Linked DNA regions of Homo sapiens: region 2 is linked to region 1. Evidence: fine-mapped expression QTL. A gene starts in region 1. The other region holds a variant in brackets. All regions are shown on one strand. Distances are from middle to middle. Region 1 holds the start of AARS1 (alanyl-tRNA synthetase 1). Region 2 overlaps SF3B3 (splicing factor 3b subunit 3).

Region 1 (5,374 bases):
TCATTAGATAATTATATTAGAATGAGACTTTTGGGCCTCAATTACAATTTCTTTCTTTTTTTTGTTTTAAGAGACAAGGGGGCCGGACGCGATGGCTCACGCCTGAAATCCCAACACTTTGGGAGGCCAAGGCAGGCGAATCACCTGAGGTCGGGAGTTCAAGACCAGCCTGGCCAACATGGCGAAACCCTCATCTCTACTAGAAATAGAAGAAAAAAAAATAACTGGGCGTGGTGGTGGCGCCTGTAATCTCAGCTACTCGGGAGGCTGAGCCAGGAGGCAGATGTTGACATGAGCCGAGATCATGCCATTGCACTCCAGCCTGGGCAACAAGAGTGAAACTCTGCCTCAAAAAAAGGAAAAAAAAAGAGAGAGAGACAAGGGTCTTGCTTTGTTGCCCAGGCTGGAGTGCAGTCGCGAGATCTCAGCTCACTGAAGCCTTCAGCTTCTGGGCTCCAAGTGATTCTCCTTCCTCAGCCTCTTGAGCAGCTGGGACTACAGGCGAATGCCACCACGCCTAGCTAATTAAAAAGAATTTTTTTTTTTTAACAGAGTCTCACTATGTTGCCTAGGCTGGTTTCAAACACTTGGGCTCCATTGATCCTCCTGCCTTGGCCTCCCAAAGTGTTGGGATTACAGGTGTGAGTCTCTGTGCTGGCCTACAATCTCTCTTAATGGGTGAATAAAAAATTCTTATTTATTTATTTATTTATTTTGAGACAAAGTCTCGCTCTGCGGCCCAGGCTGGAGTGCAGTGGCCTGATCTCGGCTCACTGCTAGCTCCGCCTCCCGGGTTCACGCCATTCTCCTGCCTCAGCCTCCAGAGTAGCTGGGACTACAGGCGCCCGCCACCACGCCCGGCTACTTTTTTTGTATTTTTTAGTAGAGACGGGGTTTCGTCGTGTTAGCCAGGATGGTCTCAATCTCCTGACCTCATGATCTGCCTGCCTAGGCCTCCCAAAAGTGCTGGGATTACAGGCATGAGTCACCACGCTAGGCCAAAAAATTATTTTAATCTGTTTATAATTATTTTATTAATGAAGGTACTATCCTAGTAACAACTCTGGCAGCAGAACTAAATTATTGAGATTACAACCTGTATTATTTTATTCTGAAAGTACAATTCATACATACCTTTTGGCTTTCTATTTTAAGTGTGGTGGCTTAGAAGTCTGACTCATTTCCCAGATTGTTTAAGCTAAATATATGTTATTTAGGGCACTGTGGATCAGAATAAACACTTGTGTCTCCTGGTTTTGCCCTCAGCTGTGTTACTTAACCTCTCTCTCTGCCTTATTTTACTCTGTTAAAAGCAGATAGTAGTAGTAACTCATGATAAGGTTGTGAGGATTAAAAGCTTAGATTGGTGCCTGCTGTATACTAAGTGCTCAATAAATGGTAGGTTTGATGATTACTATTTGTGAGCAGCTATGAAGTGGGAAAGTAAATCAAATGATTTATGTTTTTACTGGCTTTTGGGCTTGACCTTCTTTTTGTGTAGGATGCTCTTTTTGCATAAAAAGTAGTATTTTTCTGTATTGTCTGTAACTTGAGTTATGACCAGCAGCACAATTTATTACCCGTGTATTTGGATATATCAGATGATGGAGGTAATAGTGCAGTGGTTAAGAGCATGGGCTTTGGAGTTAAATAGACACAGGTTTGGATCCTGTCTCCACAACTTACTATTGGGTGTGAACTTGTGCAAGGTAATTTCCTCATTTGTAAAAAGGGGACTCCAGCTGACCTCATACACAGTTTAAAAATCAAATGAAATAAGCATGTGAAATGTTTGATGCAATGCCTCACGTATAAATACATACATATTTTTCAGACAGGGCCTCGCTCTGTCGCCCAAGGAATGCAGTGTCACGATCAGGGCTCACTGCAGCCTCAACTTCCTAGGCTCAAGTGATCCTCCCACTTCAACCTCCCAAGTAGCTGGGACTACAAGCATGCGCCACTATGCCTGGCTAATTTTTATTTTTTATTTTTTTTTTTGAGACGGAGTCTTGCTCCGTAGCCAGGCTGGAGTGCAGTGGCGCCATCTCGGCTCACCGCAACTTCCGCCTCCCGAGGTCAAGGGATTCCCTTGCCTCAGCCTCCCGAGTGGCTGGGACTACAGATGCGCGCCCGGCTAATTTTGTGTTTTTAGTAGAGACGGGGTTTCACCATGTTGGCCAGGATGCTCTCGGTCTCCTGACCTCGTCATCCGTTGGCCTCAGCCTCCCAAAGTGCTAGGATTACAGGTGTGGGCCACCGCGCCCGGCCTTTTAAAAAATTTTTCGTAGAGACAGGGTCTAGTTATGTTGACCAGGCTGGTCTCCAACTCCTGGGTTCAGGTGATCTTCCCACCTTGGCCTCCCAAAGTGTTGCAATTATAGGCGTGAGCCACCGCACCTGGCATGTATATATGTATATGTATATATATATATTCACCCTCCTCCCCCAGGCCTATAAATATTAACTTTTTTTTTTCCAAAGGCAAATCGAGGACCAGATGCTGATCCAATCGTACCTGAACTACTGATGTTATTTCTTCCACACCAAATTCAAGGTCTCCCCCGGACAAGTGTAACCATGGGCACAATGTCAGACTCTTTGAGGGCTGTGTATCACTCAGCAACTAAAATAAACAACTATAGCAAGATATGTAACCTCTACCAAACACGTTACCGTCTCCCCTTTTTAACTATGTCAATTGTGGTGTTAGGACTTTGCCTATGGAAACCAAAATGTCGACCTCCGGGAGCCGGGGGCGGGGGGGGGCGGGGGGGGCGGGGGGGGGTCTAACTCGATCATGTGACGCACCCCATCCCACCTTTTCTCGCAGTTGCATCAGCCAAGTTAGAGCCGCCTTCCCAGGAATCCACTAATGAACGGATTCGTCCTCAGTTTGACTGGCATGTTGGTTGACCAATAATATCTCATGAGGTAAGGCGCGGCGGGGCACTTTCCGTCGGCGCGCTCTGATTGGACGGAGCGTGGCGGGTTGTGGTAGGTCGTGGTCTGAGGCCGGTACAGCTGCGCGTCTGCGGGAATAGGTGCAGCGGGCCCTTGGCGGGGGACTCTGAGGGAGGAGCTGGGGACGGCGACCCTAGGAGAGGTAGGCCGCCCTCGGAGAGCTCTGCGGTGCTAGGAGAGCGGCTGGGCCCGCAGACTGGGGGGAAAGCTCCGCAGCCGCAGTGGGCCCCAGGATCAGGCCCCGCGTGGCCTGGAGAAGCCCAGTCTGGGCTGGAGCGGGAGCTGGACAGTGTGGCCTTGCGTTCGCCCCCGGGAGCGCTGCGAGTGTCGCGGCCTCGGGTGGATTTGCTGAGCACCAATACCTCACGGTTGCCAACCTGGGGTTTTAGCTCCCTTGGTTTTAATCCCCTAGGGGCGGGTGGGGGCACGGGAGGAAGGATGGGCCAGCTGGGTGCAATCCTGCTGTAAGCCAGCCATTCCTTGATTTCTTAAAATTAACTAAACAGCTGATGCCGGTCCAGGCGCACCGAGACCGTCATCTTAAGCTGTTCTGTAAAACAGTTTGTATTTCTCGGTGTGCTTTGAAGCATGTGAGTTAATTCCGAACTTGGTGTTAAAGGATTAGTATACCTGATCACGAAATACGTATTTAGCAGCCACTGTACTAGATGCTGAGGATGTGCTGTAATAGCCCAGGGCCAGGCGCGGAGGCTCACGCCTGTAATCCCAGCGCTTTGGGAGGTCGAGGCGGGCGGATCACCTGAGGTCAGGGGTTCGAGACTAGCCTGGCCAACATGGTGAAACCCCGTCTTTACTAAAAATACAAAAATTAGCCGAGCGTGGCGGCGCGCGCCTGTACTCTCAGCCACTCCGGAGGCTGAGGCATGAGAATCGCTTGAACCCGGCAGGCGGAGGTTGCAGTGAGCTGAGATCACACCATTGCACTCCAGCCTGGGTGACAGAGGGAGACTCCGTTTCAAAAAAAAAAAAAAAAAAAGAGCCCAGAACAGTCGTTGCTGCTGGGATGGAACTGACAGCCTGATGGGGGAGGCGCACATTAAACAATCCATGAAGCGCGTATGGAAATTATGAAGGGAAACACTTGAGGCTGTGAGACAGTAAAAGAGGGGGAGCCTTATCAAGAAGGGGAAGGCGGCCGGGCGCGGTGGCTCACGCCTGTAATCCCAGCACTTGGGGAGGCCGAGGTGGGCAGATCACGAGGTCAGGAGATTGAGACCATCCTGGCTAACACGGTGAAACCCCATCTCTACCAAATATACAAAAATAGCCGGGCGTGGTGACTGGCGCCCGTAGTCCCAGTAGTCCCAGCTACTCGGGAGGCTGAGGCAGGAGAATGGCGTGAACCCGGGAGGCGGAGCTTGCAGTGAGCTGAGATCGCGCCACTGCACTCCAGCCTGCGCAACAGAGCGAGACTCCGTCTCAAAAAAAAAAAAAAAAAAAAAAGAAGAAGGGGAAGGCTGTCTTAAATAAGTGTCTTGGCCGGGCGCGGTAGCTCACCCCTGTAATCCCAGCACTTTGGGAGGCCGAGGCGGGCAGATCGCCTGAGGTCAGGAGGTCGAGACCAGCCTGACCAACATGGAGAAACCCCGTCTCTACTAAAAATACAAAATTAGCTAGGTGTGGTGGCACATGCCTGTATTCCCAGCTACTCAGGAGGCTGAGGCAGGAGAATCGCTTGAAGCCGGGAGGTGGAGATTGCGGTGAGCCGAGGTTGCGCACCATTGCACTCCAGCCTGGGCTACAAGAGCGAAACACCGTCTCAAAAAAAAGAAAAAGTGTCTTTACGTTTGTTGTTGTTTGAGTCAGGGTCTCACCCTGTTACCTAGGCTGGAATGTTTTGGTGTGACCATAGCTCACTGCAGCCTCAAACTTATGTGCTCAAGCGACCCTTTGGACTCAGCCTCCCGAGTAGCTGGGTCTGCAGGTGCACACCACCACACCTGGCCAATTAAAAAAAAAATTGACCTCCCAGGCTCAGGTGTTCCCATGTTGCCCAGGCTGGTCTTGAATTCCTGGCCTCAAGCAATCCTCCTGTTTCAGCCTCCCAAAGTGACAGAGCGAGACCTGTGTGTAAAGCCTGGGTGACAGAGCGAGACCTGCCTCAAAAAAAAAGTTGAAACAGGTCTCGCTTTGTCACCCAGGCTGGAGTGCAATGGCATGATCTCGGCTCGCTGCAGCCACCGCCTCCCAGGTTCAAGCAATTCTCCTGACTCAGCCTCCCAAGTAGCTGGGATTACAGGCGCCCGCTACCATGCCCAGCTAATTTTTTTTTTTTTTTTTTTTTTTTGAGACGGAGTCTCGCTCTGTCGCCCAGGCTGGAGTGCAGTGGCGCGATCTCGGCTCACTGCAAGCTCCGCCTCCCGGGTTCACGCCATTCTCCTGCCTCAGC
Region 2 (5,374 bases), 280 kb before region 1:
ATGGTGGTGGGGGAAACAAAACACACAGTCTCTGGCAAGCCCCACCGGGAAAGGAGGGCTCAGAAGGCGTAGCGGGTCCGGATATCCTCGAGTTTCTTGGACACTTCGGGTGGGGTTCGGTCCAGTTCTTCAGAGACGTTCTTTTGTTTGTTGGGTTCCATGGAATTGAACTGCTCACAGAGGTCTCCATCAATCACATTCTAAGATATGGAGAAAGCAGAAAGAAAAAAAATGGTGAGATGCCCAAAGAAAATGGCACATGCTAAAGCAGCACTTGTAGGGAAAGCTGTTTTTATTTTTTAGTTTTTGAGACAGGGTCTCACCCTATCATCCGGGTTGCAGTGCAGTGGGATAATCTTAGCTCACTGCACTCTCAAAATCTGGGGCTCAGCCTCCCGATTGGCTGGGACCACAAATGTGTGCCACCACGCCCAGACCGGGAAAACTTTTTATTCTCCACTCGATACTTGAACCCCACTTGTAGATCCAGGAACACTATCTTAAGTTGACTCTTGGTACTCAGAGTTCAGATTGGCAGAAGCAGGTGAAGCCTTTGCTCTGGCTGTGGTCTGCCCTGAGGGGAGCACCCTCCCTGGTACTATTCCCATCAATCCACTCCCTGTGCTGCTCCTTTCTCAGATCTCCCTTTTCAGCTCAGATTCCCCCAACCTACCTTCACAGGGAAGTAGTAGGAGCGAAAGCTGAGGTGGTCCCGCCCACAGAGAGGGGGATGTTCAGACCGCAGGTGCATTTCCACATGCTGGAAGAAGTCATGGTCCTGGCAGAAGAAACAAAAAATCTGTCACTGAGAAGTGATTTCAACTAGTCTAGAGTTTCCACAAGCACAACGAACAGACAAGCCATTCATTTTTACTACACAAACACACGGGAAATATCTAATCACTTTCTGATAATCACAGGTTTTTCTGCTACAACACGATAGTTAAACCCCAAAAGGAGACCACATGTTGTCTGCAGTGCAAGAGAGAATGCCACACATAAAGAATGGTTTGTGAGGTCAGATTCCTGATCCCAGCTTCCTTGGCTGGAATAAAACATGCCAAACTCTGGCAAACCTAGAGTTGATTCCATATGGCAGTGTGTGCCCCAGGAGGGATCATCCCATCAATCCTGGCAATCCTAGTCTGTGGAGTCCAGTTCTAAAGCTCTGGGCTCAGGCTAACCTTGTAAACTCGCATCAGACTGAAGCAAACCCTGGGACACTATAAAAACAAACGGCCTGGCCGGGCGCGGGTGGCTCACGCCTGTAATCCCAGCACTTTGGGAGGCTGAGGCAGGCGGATCACAAGGTCAAGAGATCGAGACCACCCTGGCTAACACGGTGAAACCCCATCTCTATTAAAAATACAAAAAATTAGCCGGGCATGGTGGCGGGCGCCTGTATTCCCAGCTACTTGGGAGGCTGAGGCAGGAGAATGGCGTGAACCTGGGAGGTGGAGTTTGCAATGAGCTGAGATTGCGCCACTGCACTCCAGCCCGGGTAACAGTGAGACTCCGTCGCAAAAAAAAAAAAAAAAACCAAATGGCCTTCCCTGGGTGCGGGAGAATCAAGATTCCTATCTCCCCAAGTACTTCTGTCACTTTATAATTCCCAGAACATTATTAATTATATGTGGGGACAAATGAATTTGACCTCTTAGGTAGATCCAGCACCAAGAAACAACCTTAAAAGTCAAGGCCAGAGTAATGTGGGCGCTCTCACCTCATGGGACGTGAATGGCACAAGGATGCCAATTCCTCCAGACAAGGTGGTATAGACAAGTGATTCTGAGCCTCCAGGGATCAGCGTGGTCTTCTGCAAGGACAGCACCGTCTCCCCGACATGGTAGTTCATGATCACCTCTGCCTGTGAGTCACAAACAGACTAGTGACTGTGTGCACCCTCAGGAGCCTCCCTGGACTCCCAAGGGCAAGCAGTGCTCCCTAAGGCACATTTCATCATCTATTAACATCCAAAAATTATTATAGAGGCCAACGTGGGAGGATTGCTTGAGCCCAGGATTTCAAGACCAGCCTGGGCAACACAGTGAGGTCTCGTATACCCATACCCACAAAATCTGCCAGGTTTGGTGGCATGTACTATAGTCTCAGCTACTCAGGAGGCTGAGTGGGAAGGATCACTTGAGCCCAGGAGGTGGAAGCTGCAGTGATCTGTGATTGTACCACCACACTCCAGCCCGGGCGACTGAGTGAGACCTTGTCTCAAAAACAAACAATAAATCCAAAAATTATTAAACCCTA[C/T]AAATATTTTAAAATTCTCACATTTACTTAAAGCTTAATGCCTCATAAAACATGCTAAAGTTACTGTTCATCATTTCTTACGATAAGAATCATTTTGTTAAATTTATCAAGCTTGCCATAAAAAAGGAAAACACAAAGAAAATTATAGAAAACAGCAATCACTAGGCTTGTCTTCTAAAATAGATTTGCCCGAAAGTCCAGAGATGCTCTATTAAAGCAGCACATGCCTACAGGAGAAAGTAAAGCCCAGGACACACCTCAGAGCAGAGGACTGGGAATGGACTCTCTCTAAGAAACTCGCTACTCTCCAAGGAGATTTTTTGCAGATTGGTAAGAAAGGACTGTGGACGGACAGCACTCAGCACAGTCGTGTGCACTATGAATAATTCACCAAAGGCAATTTCTTCAGTGAGGGCAACAGGAAAAGTGCTAAGCAGTGTTCTCCCTGGGGCCCATTCTGCAATCTTACCTTCTGGGAGGCCCCATTGAGCAAGCCACGGTCCCACAGGGCTTTGTTTCCTGTAGGATCCTCATCTACTTCATCATTGGTGTTAGGTGGGAGCCTCACCTACAAGGAAGTGACACAAGTCACACTGCTGGGGCCCGGACCTGCTCACCTGAGTCACCAAGCAACAGGTCTGGCCAGGTCTTTGCAAGTCAGCCACAGGGGCACTGCCTAGACAGAGGCCTGAGCCCACGTGTCCTGCACCTGCTCTGGTGGGCAGGAGCTGTGTCTGAGGAGCAAGAAACTCAAAAGAATCGACCCATGAGCAAGAGTTTAACACAGCTAAGGGTAAAACCAAAACCACACAACATAGATAACAGACATTCCAAAGTTCTTATAAAATGTAAAAAGAAATATTAGCCATTAGCTCAAACTAAACCTATCATTAAATCACGTTCAATAGGGAGGAGGGAGATAAACCACAGAGAAAAATCCAAAAGACTAGTAAGAAGGCTTAAAGAACAGATTGCTTGTAGAGTTAGCTTTAGTAGGATGGAATTTTATATCCATTTTTACTTCTCAGATTTGATTCCTCCTTGGCTTTACCCACAAGAAACTGAGCCAGCTTTCCTACACATCACTGTAACCCAAGTTAACAACATCAACTCACCACACATATGTTGCCAAACTTGTCTGCCCCAGCCACAGTGTCATAGTCCAGGAGGCTGGCTGTAGTGACCCATCGGGGGTAGGTATCATCAGCAAAGATGATAAGCTGGTTTTCATTACGCTTGTAGCGAACCCAGATGAAACTTTCTTGGACATCAGATACAATTACCCTATGTCCGATAGTCTGGATCCCAGAGATATAATTGGCAATATGCTGGGAAAAACAAAGACAATAGTGATGGTGGGTGTAATCTTGGGGTTCAGAACCCAAAGAAAGCCCAGCTTTCCGTATGACATACGTAGGGTCAGCAGAACAGCAAATACCAAAAACCAGCAGTTAGCAATGAATTCTAGGTGGGAAAAAAGAGCCAAATAGCTTTTAATATAGTGCAAATATATGCCTAACTCTCACATTTACTTTCCTTATAGAAGCTAGCAAGATAGAAAGCTGGTTCTTGTTTGGTAAGTCAAGAAATGAGATCCCTCTACTCCTGCTCCTCTCAAAACTCAAGGGCCGGTGCGGTGGCTCACGCCTGTAAACCCAGGACTTTGGGAGGCTAAGGCGGGTAGATCATGAGATCAGGAGTTAAGAGACTAGCCTGGCCAACATGGTAAAACCCTGTCTCTACTAAAGATACAAAAAATTTGCCAGGCGTGGTGGCGCGCATCTGTAATCCCAGCTACTTGGGAGGCTGAGGCAGGAGAATCGCTTGAACCCAGGAGGCGGAGGTTGCAGTGAGCCGAGATTGCGCCACTGCACTCCAGCCTGGGCAACAGGGCGAGACTCCGTCTCAAAAACCAAAAAACAAAAAAACAAGGGCATAATTCTGAAGCTGGAATTGGGGTAACACAACAAGTCCTAATAAAGATAAGATTTTAAAACTCAATGCCCACCACCCCACCAATGCCCCCACCCTTGACACATGAGCTAGATCTCAGCACCAATGCCAGCACACTTACCTTATTCTCACATTTTCGGAGTAACTTCTTCTTTCCCAGGTCATAGACACGCAACAGCTTCCCCACACCAATCAACACCCTCCCCTGGAATGGGGCAATAGCAGCAGGGACCTCTTCCACAGGAGTCTATAGAGGAAAAGCAGGTAATACAGCTATTATAAATGCCAGCCAGACACAGGCCTCACCTCTCTGCCCAGAAATGCCTACTTCCACAGGAGCCTATCATTAAGAAACACACCAGTGAGCTTATTTTGCTAATGAATCTGGGTGTTGGGGTGAACAAGTTCCGCATGCTGCATTCACTCAGTAGAGGGATCAATGCTGTAACTGACAAGAAGTTCTGGTACCAGACGACTGCTGTCCAGAGCTTGTGCTCTGTTTAACTGGTGTTATTTCAACAGTGAAGCCTTAGTAGCCAAGTGACTGTAATTTGTGGAGGGACAGGAAAGAAATGCTAGTGAAAAGTGACTTTTTTTTTTTTTTTTGAGACAGGGTCTCACTACTGCTCAGGCTGAAGGGCTGTGGCAGGCGCAATCATGGCTCACTATAGCCTGGACTTCCTGGGCTCAGGTGATCCTCCCACCTCAGACTCCCGAGTAGCTGGGACTACAGGCATGTGCCATCAAGCCTGACTAATTATCTGTATTTTTCGTAGAAACTGAGTTTCACCACATTGCCCAGGCTGGTCTCAAACTCTTGGGCTCAAGTGACCTGCTCGACTCAGACTCCCAAAATGCTGGGATTACAAGCGTGAGCCACTGCACCCAGCCTAGTGACATCTCAGTTGTAAAGGAGAGACAAATTTAATATGCAAAAGGGTCTATGAAGTATTTCTTAGAGGATACTCCCCTTATGGTAGGGTTGAAGGAATCCACATGCTGTCATTGTGGAGAAGAGAATATTCTTTTTATTTTAAAAATTATGGTAAAATAGTCATAACATAAAGTTTACCATCTTAATCCTTTTCTTTTTTTTGAGACAGAGTCTCGCTCTGTCACCCACGCTGGAGTGCAGTGGCGCAATCTCGGCTCACTGCAA

The links. PIP is the estimated chance that this variant, and not a neighbour inherited with it, causes the effect. A credible set is the group of variants that fine-mapping cannot tell apart.
Region 2: its variant is the best candidate, but not a certain one, in a credible set for the expression of AARS1 in blood mononuclear cells (TOPMed, PIP 0.59).

The regions. Positions count from the first base shown.
Region 1 is chr16:70,287,153-70,292,526 of GRCh38, reverse strand. It overlaps AARS1 (alanyl-tRNA synthetase 1), which reads left to right and starts at 3,021. Exons shown (of 21, transcript NM_001605.3): 1 at 3,021-3,106. It also overlaps a transcript of DDX19B not described here. RefSeq lists a silencer at 3,676-3,805.
Region 2 is chr16:70,566,499-70,571,872 of GRCh38, reverse strand. SF3B3 (splicing factor 3b subunit 3) reads right to left here. Exons shown (of 26, transcript NM_012426.5): 21 at 4,337-4,462; 22 at 3,378-3,590; 23 at 2,732-2,830; 24 at 1,724-1,867; 25 at 674-778; 26 at 1-200. The coding sequence ends at 60. Among named protein-coding and RNA genes, the nearest start is that of SNORD111, 31 kb to the right of the region's middle. The variant C/T (reference allele first, on the strand shown) is at 2,263.